3 linked regions of the Homo sapiens genome follow. The protein of the gene in region 1 purifies or fractionates together with the protein of each later gene. This does not show direct contact. Each region holds a gene or a part of one and is shown on either strand. Other genes may lie near its edges.

Evidence for each region.
Region 2: the proteins of CECR2 (region 1) and MLKL purify together in Homo sapiens (affinity purification with mass spectrometry, with the first as the bait; one large-scale study listed by BioGRID). This does not show direct contact.
Region 3: the proteins of CECR2 (region 1) and ALPL purify together in Homo sapiens (affinity purification with mass spectrometry, with the first as the bait; one large-scale study listed by BioGRID). This does not show direct contact.

What each region holds. Positions count from the first base shown.
Region 1 is NC_000022.11:17,367,825-17,371,571, reverse strand, and holds the start of CECR2 (chromatin remodeling regulator CECR2), read right to left. Parts: upstream 2,113-3,747; 5' UTR 1,789-2,112; coding exon 1,663-1,788; intron 1-1,662. UniProt on the Homo sapiens protein: Regulatory subunit of the ATP-dependent CERF-1 and CERF-5 ISWI chromatin remodeling complexes, which form ordered nucleosome arrays on chromatin and facilitate access to DNA during DNA-templated processes such as DNA replication, transcription, and repair.
Region 2 is NC_000016.10:74,694,353-74,697,999, forward strand, and holds part of MLKL (mixed lineage kinase domain-like protein), read right to left. Parts: intron 1,408-3,647; 5' UTR 1,406-1,407; coding exon 946-1,405; intron 1-945. UniProt on the Homo sapiens protein: Pseudokinase that plays a key role in TNF-induced necroptosis, a programmed cell death process. Does not have protein kinase activity.
Region 3 is NC_000001.11:21,554,377-21,558,023, reverse strand, and holds part of ALPL (alkaline phosphatase, tissue-nonspecific isozyme isoform 1 preproprotein), read right to left. Parts: intron 1-3,647. UniProt on the Homo sapiens protein: Alkaline phosphatase that metabolizes various phosphate compounds and plays a key role in skeletal mineralization and adaptive thermogenesis.

The sequences.
Region 1 (3,747 bases):
ACAGGACATCAGAGTAACTGAGAAACATCCTTTGACCTTTAGGATTCCCAACTCTTTAGCTTCCGTGTCTCTGTTTCTCTTCTTTCGTCAATATTAACAGTTGTCTAAAGAATATTTTCATTAATAAAATTATGCTTGCTACATTCACGTTCAAACTTTGAAAACAAACGCTGTGGCGCCACGTAAAATGCCCGTTATTACCTCTTCCTAAAAAGTGGAGAAGCCCACATTTCCTCACATTGTTTTAATCAGCTTAAGGAACTAAGAATCGCCAAAAGCCAGTGAGTGGCCCTAGACTATCTGTCTACATTCCTCTTCATTCTCCCATCCCCAACCCTTTTGATCTTTTTATTTTCCTGATTTCATTAACTGCGACGAGAGCAAGTTCCCACACTTCATTCACAGAAGAAGCAACTGATATTTCAGCAAACACGACTAAATCTAAAAATAAAGGTGAGGCAAAGAGCTCTGAAATAAACGAGTTAAAATCAACCCGAAAATGGCACAAAGTAAGATCCGTGGGGCTGGGGAGGCAACAACAACGATTTGCTCTTCCAAAAGAGTGGCTCTAATTTTGATTACTGCGTCGGCGAACCCATCCGCAGAACAGAAAACAAAAACTGACCAACGCAGTTGCCATTCACCTTTGTCCAAAGGCAAAAGGTGAAAAGTCACGACACATATTGCCATAGAAGAGAAGGCAATTCAACCTGCCAACCAATCGACTAATTCTCAGCTCCTTCCAAAAATAAAAATAAAAATAGGAGAAAGGGGGCTGCCGCTGGGCTGGCCGATGCCTGGCCGCCGAGTGCGCCGCGCTCCGCAAGCTCCCGCCACCCGCCGCGCTCCAGGACCCTCGGGTTTCGGCCCAGTTATCACAAAGCCCCGGGCTGGAAAACACCTCCGGCCTGGCCAGAATGGCCAGCCCGTCCTCCGCGCTCGCCCGGGGGGATAATGGTGGCGAGATCAACTCCAAGGGCTCCCGAGCCCCGCGATAAAGAGGCTGGATATTACGGGAGGAAGGACGCTGTGGAAGAATAACGGAGTCCCAAACTTTCCTTCCACACCTCCAGAGCCCCGCGCCCAGGCCCGGTCCCCACCGGCCCGAAGTTGGCCGGAGCGCCTCCCGGGAGCTTGGGGCCTCCGGGAGCCCCTGCCACGCGCCCGCCCGCCAGAGCGGGGCTAGCCCTCCCCGCCGGCCGCGGCCGACTCCCGCCCCGGTCCGAGTTAATCCCGCGCGGGCCCCCCCCCCGCGCCCGGCCCCGCCGGAGCAGCTGGCTCGCGCCTCAATGGCACCGGGCGGCGAGCGCGCGCAGCCCTCGCGCCCACACCCAGCCCCAGCCCACCGGAGAAGTCCCGGGAGGGTCGCCGGGTCCCGCTCCCGCTCCCTCTCCCACAAAAGCACGGGCCCGCCCCGCCCTCGCGGTGCCTGCTCCTCCACCCCAGGATCCGGCGTCCCCGGCCCGACGCCCCTCGGCACCCGGGCACAGCCCGGCGGCCCCCGCCCGCCCTCCTGCCCTTTTGCGCCCTCCTCCTGGCCCCCGACTCCCGGCCGAAGTCCCTCGGGCCCCGGCCCCTCTGCGCGACGGCCCGGGACACCCCGCGCGGGGCAGGGGGAGCAGGGGGCGCAGCGCGCCGCCTCCCGCCCGCGCGGCCACTCACCTCGATCTCGAAGTCGGGCAGGCGGAACGCGGTGCGAAAGAGCGAGCAGAAGTGCGCGATGGCCGGGACCTCCCACCAGGAGCGGAGCTCGCCCAGCCCGGCCGCGCCGCCCTCCTCTGGGCACATCTCCCCGCTGCGGCACAGGCGGCGGCCCCTCGCTGCCCGCGCTCTGCCCGCCGACCTGGGACTCCCGCCGCGGCAGCGCCGCAGCCTCCGCGCGGTCCTCGGCGGGGGCGGCGGGGCGCTCCTCCCGCTGCTGCCGCCGCTCGGCGAGTGCAGGAGCCGAGGGCGGGCGCCGGGCGGGGGGCGGCGGCGCGGGGGCCCGAACTACTGAGGCGGCTGCGGCTGCGGCTGCCCGCGGGGTCCGCGCGCTCGCCCCATCCCGCGGCTGCGGCGGCGGCCGCCCCCAGTCCCCTACAATATAATCGAGTCCCCGCCGGAGAAACAGATGGGGCTAGGGGCGGAGGGGCCGGACGCGGGGCCTGGGGGAGGGGCCGCCCACGAGGAGGGGGCGGGGCTGCCCGCGCCACAACAACAACCCCCGCCCCCGCCCCACCCCCGCCCGGACAGCTGCACCGCCAGGGAGGGGGAGGGGCGGGGCGCGCGCCCCCGGGCCCAGATCCGCAGGACCCAGGGGGCGCGGGCCGCACCCCCGAGAACTCTCACGAGGCGCCCTCCGCCCTCCAGGACTTTGGGACTGGGGAGTTGAAGCACTTTCCCAAGGGAGGACGGCCAGGAGCTCTCCCACCCCCACTTGGCCTGAGTGGTCGCGTCCTTTTAAAGGGCCCGCGGGGTGGTCCTTTCGGTCGGGCTAGAGACAGAAACGTGCACGTGTGGGAGTTCAGTTATTATTGATGCCGAGGGCAGAGCCGGAGCAGGAGCGGGCTGTCCACCCTAGAAATATGAAGCCTAGAGAAGTGAAGTGCTTTCCACCTGTTTCTTAACGCTTTTATTCCAGCCGAGAACGGCGCCCAAGGAGCTCTGAAGTGGCTTTTTTCTCCGAGGGAAGAAGGCGGTGGGGCTGATTGAGCTGGAACGAAGTAGGATGGAGGCTGGAGAGCGGCGGGAAGGGTGGGGTAGGGGGAGGCACCAATCAGCAGCCAAGCGGGAAGAGCGATCCCCAACCCCAGGGAATGGACACGTGTGACCGCCCCGGAGAAGACGGGCTCGGAACCCTGCTACTGCCCGGCCGCTGAAAGAGCTGCCTGGAAGAGTGAGCACAATGTGCTTGGAAGGCGGGGGGATGGGGCAGAGGAGATCGGGAAGCCGGGGACTGTGCTCGGAGGGGAGGAGACCCCCACGCCCCGGCGGAGGGATTGAATGTGCTACGGCCGAAGGGTGTTGGAGTGTGTGCTTTAGAAATGCTAACTGCTGTAGCGCGGTGGAGTACTGCTAAATCCTAAGAAAAAAAATCACCCCAGAAACAGGCTAGAAGTTTGGAAAAACTCCATTGAATGCTCAGATATTTGTATTGGTCGTCGCACTTGCATCCTGCTGGTCTCAGAGGGCCGCCTCTGAGTTCGGTGGTCCACCTTTCAGATAGGAAACACTGCTCCTGGTGCGTCCCCCAAATTAATCAACTATTTATTGAGTGACAGGCACAATCACAAAGTGTACAAGGGTTAAACTCAAAGATCCTCTTCTACCTTTAAGTAGTGTACAATCTGGAGATAATTTATATGATAGATTTTGGAATGGGCTGTCTGGATAATTACCCCTCCACTCTCCCTCACTTTATTATGATAATAACTTGTTGTATTTTTTAAGGCAGCATTCAGAAACATAATTTTAAATGGTTAGAGTATATTCACGTGCATCTTCTGTGAATCTAGTAATCTCAAAATACATCATCTTCTAACAAGGGTCTCCTCCGCCCCCCACCACTCTCTCCTGGCACAGAAAAACAACCCAAAGTTCTGCTCTTTCATTCCCTGGAACTATTTGATGATTTAAAGTGCATCCTCAAATTCTACCATGCTTTTTATTTAATGTTTGGCAAAAATGAGCTCACATGTGACTGCTCCCAAAAAGCCAAGCCTACGTTTGTGTGTGTTGGTGAAGCACAGCTACCCCGTGAGTATTGCA
Region 2 (3,647 bases), on another chromosome or scaffold:
GAAACAGGGGCCCCTGAGGTCAAGGAGGGAGATTTACTTCTCACGCCGGCCCCCTCCATCCTTTGTTTTTGGAGACAGGATCTCGCTCTGTCGCCCAGGCTGCAGTGCAATGGAGAAATCGTGGCTCACTGCAGCCTCGACCTCCTAGGTGCCTGTAATCCCAGCACTTTGGGAGGCTGAGGCAAGAGGATCACTTGAGGCCAGGAGTTCTACACCAGCCTGGGCAACATAGTGAGACTCTCTAACTACAAAAAATAAAATAAAAATTAGCTGGGCATTGTGGCGTGCACACCTATAGTACCAGCCACTCGGGAGCCTGAGGTGGGAGGATCACTTGAACCTGAGGCTGCAGTGAGCTATGATTGTGCCGCCGTCCTCTAGCCCGTGCAACAGAGACCCTGTCTCAAAAAATGAAACAAAACAAAACAAAACTCCTCTTCAACGCTGGCTTGCCCAAATTTCACCAGCCCCCACCATATATCTGGGCCAAAGGATGTTAGGAGTTTTGTTTGTTTGTTTGTTTGTTTGTTTGTTTTCTGAGGCAGAGTCTCGCTCTGTCGCCCAGGCTGGAGTGCAGTGGCGCGATCTCAGCTCACTGCAAGCTCTGCCTCCCGGGTTCACGCTGTTCTCCTGCCTCAGCCTCCCGAGTAGCTGGGACTACAGGCGCCCGCCACCATGCCCGGCTAATTTTTTGTATTTTTAGTAGAGACGGGGTTTCACCGTGTTAGCCAGGATGGTCTCAGTCTCCTGACCTAGTGATCAGCCCGCCTCGGCCTCCCAAAGTGCTGGGATTACAGGCGAGAGCCATCGCGCCCAGCTAGGAGTTTTGAGGTACAAGTATATTACAACTGCTCAAACTTCATCATTGCTGCTCCTTTGGTAAATTAAAGTGAGACTAAAATGCATTCAACTGCACTCCCACTCCCCACCAAAGACCCAGCTTGCCTCTTCTTAGCATCTGGAAAGCTCGCCTGTCTTCGTCTGCATCCTGCTGATCTTCCTGTGCCCAGGACGCTCCTTGGCTTATGGGTGAAACAGGCATGCGTTGCTCAACCTGAAGTAACAGCGAGAGCTCCTTCCAGACATCACTCAGCTTCCTGTTCACGTCCTTGAAGAGTATTTTGTCCTGGCTTGCTGTTAGAAACCTGCAGATATTGGATCTATTGCTGAACTTTTCTATCTCCCCATTAGCCTCCTCCAGGGCAGCCTTGAAGCGGTTCATGGCTGTGGTTAACTTCTCAGAGGGCACGCTCCTCTTTCCTTGGTCCTGGAGCATCTCCAGAGGCTTGATCAGGCCGAGGACGCGGTGGCCCAGGCGCCGGCACTGTTTCTTGCAGTATTTCATCTCTTCACACCGTTTGTGGATGACCTGGCCAAGGGTGATAATATGCTTCAAATTTTCCATGCCTGGAAGAAATGAATGGAATTTGGTGAAATCCCCAAATCTCCTGCATATTCACTACTTGGCTAAGAAAGAATCAAAGCGGTCTGTGACTTAAATGCCTGAGGAGGTCTCCCCAGCATTTTCATGCAAGATAGAGATGGTTTGCTACCCACCAAAATCTGTTCTGCCCTTGCACAATAATAGAGTTGTAGCTGGGAAGAGCTGGTCCAGCCGGAACTACATCTCCCAGCCTTCCTTGCAACTTGATGTGGCCATGTGACTAGTTCTCACCAATGGGGTTTAAGTGCATGTGACCTGCTCTACTTCGGACTGGGGCAGCTGTGCCGCCTCCTCACACTCTCCCTTGGTTGGCTGGATGCGTGGGGTGAAGCGGCCCTGGGGTGGTGGAGCCCCAAGAAGAGTCCTGAGTCCCTGGATAATCACTTGGAGGAGAGCTGCCCACAGACCTGGAACGTCTGTCATGGACTGTTAAGTGATCAAGGAATAAACTTGTATTGCATGTAAACCGTTAATATTTTCAGGTTGATATGTTTATATCAGTTTCGTCTATTACAGATATATCCTGCTAAAGCATAGAGGTTTCAGGGGCCAGGCGGGTAATTCAAATGAGTGAAGTGAGCTGAGGTAGTCTTTACTGCCACAGATAAATATGTTTCTTTCTGTTTTTTTTTAAAACATGTGGACTATCTTTCATTTTTCCTACAAAAAATTGTTCAGTTTCTTCCTACAGTCCTTTAAGAAAAATGCAGCTGGGCGAGGTGGCTCCCACCGATAATCCCAGCACTTTGAGAGGAAGAGACAGGAGGATTGCTTGAGGCCAGGAGTTCCAGACCAGTCTGGACAGCAAAGTGAGACCCTTTCTCTACAAAAATAAAAAAAATAAAATAAAATAAAATGAAATAAATAAAATATAAAATTGGCTGGGCGCGGTGACTCACGCCAGTAATCCCAGCACTTTGGAAGGCTGAGGTGGGCGGATCACTTGAGGTCAGGAGTTGGAAACCAGCCTGGCCAACATGGTGAAACCCCGTCTCTACTAAAAATACAAAAATTAGCTAGGTGTGGTGGTGCATGCCTGTAATCCCAGCTACTCGGAGGGCTAAGCCAGGAGAATTGCTTGAACCCAGGGGGTGGAGGTTGCACCATCTCAAAAAAATGTAATACATTACATATATATAGTAATATATATAATATTACATATATATAGTAATATATATGTAATATTACATATATAGTAATACATATATATAATATTACATATATATAGTAATACATATATATAATATTACATATATATTATATATATAAGTTAGCCTGGTGTGGTGGCACACACCCGTAGTCTCAGCTACCTGGGAAGTTGAGATAGGAGGATTCCTTGAGTCCAGGAGGTTGAGGCTGCAGTGCCAGCTTCCTACTCTTAACCTCTCTCTCTTCTCTGAACATGAGTGAGGAAGCACAGAGCCCTGATCCTAAAGCTTGGAATGAGGCTAACCTGAGCATGGTAGAATGGAAAGGGAGAAAGAATCTGAGTCTTTGATGACAACATTGAGCCACTGGTTTGAACTGACATGAAGTGTACCCCATCCCCTAACTGCAGGTTTCATGAACCAATAACCTCCCTGATTGTTTAAGGCAGTTTGAATCATGTTTGCTTTATTTGCAACTGAAGCCGACTGCGTTCAGCAATGAATGATGATAATAATTATGACACTAGATCTCTCAATTCACCTACTACATCCTAAGTGCTTTGGAACCCCCAGCTCTCCATGGTTATTTTCATTTAACAGATGAAGATACCATCTGGGCACAGTAGTTCATACCCGTAATCCCAACATTTTGGGAGGTAGAGGTGGGAAGATTGCTTGAGGCCAGGAGTTCCATTCTGGGCAACACAGCGAGACCCATCTCTACTAAAAATACAAAAATTAGCTGGGACCTGTAGTCCCAGCTACTCAGGAGGCTGAGGCGGGAGAATCGCTTGAGCCTGGGAGGTTGAGGCTGCAGTGAGCTATGATGACACCACTGCACTCCAGCCAGGGAAACAGAGAGACCCTGTCTCGAAAAAACAAACAGGTGAAAAGTGAAGATGCTGCGGTTCAGGGAGGTTGCATTCAAATAATCACAAGGCCATGGAACCAGTTTTCAAAGTATTTAAAATAAAGTTAGGGTAGGGTGTCATGACTCAAACCTGTAATCCCAGCACTTTGTGAGGCTGAGGCCAGGGGATCGTATGAGCCTGAGT
Region 3 (3,647 bases), on another chromosome or scaffold:
AGAATGCCAGGGAAAGGGCACTGATCGGTACATACTATATGATTCCATTTATATGAGGCTCAAAACAGGCAAAGCAAGTCTCTGGTGGCCAATGTAAGCCTGGGCATCTCCTCTGGCTTTGGGAGGGGGTTGGCACAGGGAAGCCCACAGATGCCTCACAACCAGAAATGTTCTGTCTTGATCTGGGTGGCGGTTACATGGGTATAAATATATGTCAAAATTTTTTCAGGCTATGTATTTAAGATCGGTGCCCTTTTCTGTAAGTTATATCTAATTGAAGAAAAAAAAGAAGGCTGAAGAAGTGGCTCATCCTGTAATCCCAGCACTTTTGGAGGCCATGGTGGGAGGACTGCTTGAGGCCAGGAGTTTGAGGCTACAGTAAGCCATGATTGTGCCACTGCACTCCAGCCTGGCAACAGCAGATACAAAAAGTTGAACTGCTGAACGTTTGAAGATTTTTCATGTTGTCACTTTTTCACCTTTTCCCTTTTCATCCATTAGTTCATCTTTCACCCAGGTGGGCTGTAAGTGCTGAGAAGGCAGGGACCCCGTCCCAGAGTGACCTTGGTCCCCCAGGGATGCAAATGGCACCACGAGGTCTCAGACGCAGCAATGGCCTGAGAGCTCAGCAGCTCAGGCTCAGTGCCCCACTGCACCCCATCTCCTCATCTGCTGAAATACAGCCGTCCTAAGAGAAGAGACCAACATTCACTGAGCATCCACTCCTTGCCAGACACTGTGACTATCCCATGTGATTCCCATGATGACCCTAAGCGGGAGGAACTCATCCCCACTGGACAGATGGAGACACTGGAGTGTGGGGAAGGCAAGTGGGGACTTCTAGCCACATAATGGACTGAGCCGAGGAAGGCTCTCTTCTCCAGCTCCAGATACAGAAATGCTGGGGAAAAAAAAATAGCACATAGCTTGAAAAAGGAAGAAAAGGGGGAAGGAAAATCCTCAGGAGGCAGCATTGATGAGGGAATCTAAAACCAGAGGGGCCCACAGGAGCTGATGCAGAGAGGAACGCCTGCGACGGCAAGCCAGGTACAGGTTCAGGCTGAAGCTGGTTTCTTTTCTTTTTTGAGATGGAGTCTTGCTCTGTTGCCCAGGCTGAAGTACAGTGGCGCAATCTCAGCTCACTGCAACCTCCGCCTCCTGGGTTCAAGTGATTCTCCTGCCTCAGCCTCCCAAGTAGCTGGCATTACAGGAGTGCGCCACCATGCCCAGCTAATTTTTGTATTTTTAGTAGAGAGGAGTTTTTGCCATGTTGGATAGGCTGGTCTCAAACTCCTGACCTCAAGTGATCCACCTACCTCGGCCTCCCAAAGTGCTGGGATTACAGGCGTGAGCCACCATTCCCGGCCAGAAGCTGGTTTCTTTTTATGAGACAGAGTCTTACTCTGTCACCCAGACTGGAGTGGTTTGATTATAGCTCACCGTAATCTTGAAATCCTGGGCTCAAGTGATTCTCCCACCTTAGCCTCCCAAGTAGCTAGGACTACAAGCATGCAGCACTATGCCCAGCTAATTGTTTGTTTGTTTCTAGAGATGGAGGTCTCACTATGTTGCCCAGGCTGTCCTCAAACTCCTGGACTCAAGCGATCCTCCCACCTCAGCCTCCCAACGCACTGGGATTACAGGCGTGAGCCACCATACCAGGCCTGCTAAAGCCACCACACCAGGTCTGCTGAAGCTGTTTTAAGGTACACATTTTGCCTTGGAGCTATGGAAGGGATAGAGAAAGACAGTCATTCATAAGAAATGTGAATTCAAGTCAAATCTGAGCCAGGTCTAAGTGGGGATCTGAATTTATAGTATAAGAATTGTAAACCAAGAAATCAACATAAAAACTGGCCTAGAATTAGTTGAACCCCTAGTGTCCTGAAAACACCATGCCATGCTGTGGAAACACTTCCGCGTGAATCTCCAACAGAAAAACAAAAAACTCGGCCGGGTGCGGTGGCTCATGCCTGTAATCCCAGCACTTTAGGAGGCCAAGGCAGGCGGATCACCTGAGGTCAGGAGATCGAGACCATCCTGGCTAACATGGTGAAACCCCGTCTCTACTAAAAGTACAAAAAAATTAGCTGCGCGTGGTGGCGGGCACCTGTAGTCCCAGCTACTTGGGAGGCTGAGGCAGGAGAATGGCGTGAACCCGGGAGATGGAGCTTGCAGTGAGCCAAGATTGCGCCACTGCACTCCAGCCTGGGCGACAGAGAGAGACACTGTCTCAAAAAAAAGAAAAACAAAAAACTCCTGTTGAAGATGAGTTCACTAGTGAGAACTACAAATGACAAGAAAAAGGCTGGGCACAGTGGCTCACACCTGTAATCCCAGCACTTTGGGAGGCCAAGGCGGGTGGATCACTTGAGGTCAGGAGTTCGAGATCAGCCTGGCCAACATGATGAAACCCCGTCTCTAATAAGAATACAAAAAATTAGCCGGGTGTTGCGGCGCACGCCTGTAATCCCAGCTACTCAGGAGGCTGAGGCAGGAGGATCACTTGAACCTGGGTGGCGAAGGTTGCAGTGAGCTGAGATCACGTCACTGCACTCCATCCTGGGCAAACAGAGTGAGAGTCTGTCTCTGTCTCAAAAAGAAAGTGTCAGGCGTCTGAGCCCAAGCTAAGCCATCATATCCCCTGTGACCTGCACATATACATCCAGACGGCCTGAAGTAACTGAAGAATCACAAAAGAAGTGAAATTTAAATGGTCTGTTCCTACCTTAACTGATGACATTCCACCACAAAAGAAGTGAAAATGGCCGGTCCTTGCCTTAACTGACGACATTACCTTGTGAAATTCCTTCTCCTGGCTCATCCTGGCTCAAAAAGCTCCCCCACTGAGCACCTTGTGACCCCCACTCCTGCCCGCCAGAGAACCCCCCTTTGACTGTAATTTTTCCTTTACCTACCCCTATCTTATAAAACGGCCCCACCCATATCTCCCTTGGCTGACTCTCTTTTTGGACTTAGCCCGCCTGCACCCAGGTGAAATAAACAGCCTTGTTGCTCACTCAAAGCCTGTTTGGTGGTCTCTTCACTCGGATGCGAGAGAAAAGAAAGGAAAGAAAGGAAAGAAAAAGAAAAGAAAGAAAGAAAGAAAGAAAAGAGAAAGAAAGAAAGAAAGAAAAAGAAAGAAAGAGAGAAAGAAAGAAAGAAAGAAAGAAAGAAAGAAAGAAAGAAAGAAAGAAAGAAAGAAAGACAGACAGACAGACAGACAGACAGACAGGCCAGGCGCGGTGGCTCACGCCTGTAATCCCAGCACTTTGGGAGGCCGAGGCAGGCGGATCATGAGGTCAGGAGATCGAGACCATCCTGGCTAACACGGTGAAACCCCATCTCTACTAAAAATACAAAAAATTAGCCTGGCGCGGTGGCGGGCACCTGTAGTCCCAGCTACTTGGGAGGCTGAGGCAGGAGAATGGCGTGAACCCAGGAGGCAGAGCTTGCAGTGAGCCAAGATGGCGCCACTGCACTCTAGCTTGGGCAACAGAGCGAAACCCTGTCTCAAAAAAAAAAAAATTAAGAAAGAATATATATAATATATATGAAATATATATATGGAAAAATATATATATGAAATATATATATGGAAAAATATATATGTGGAAAATATATATTTCCTTGTATATATATATTTT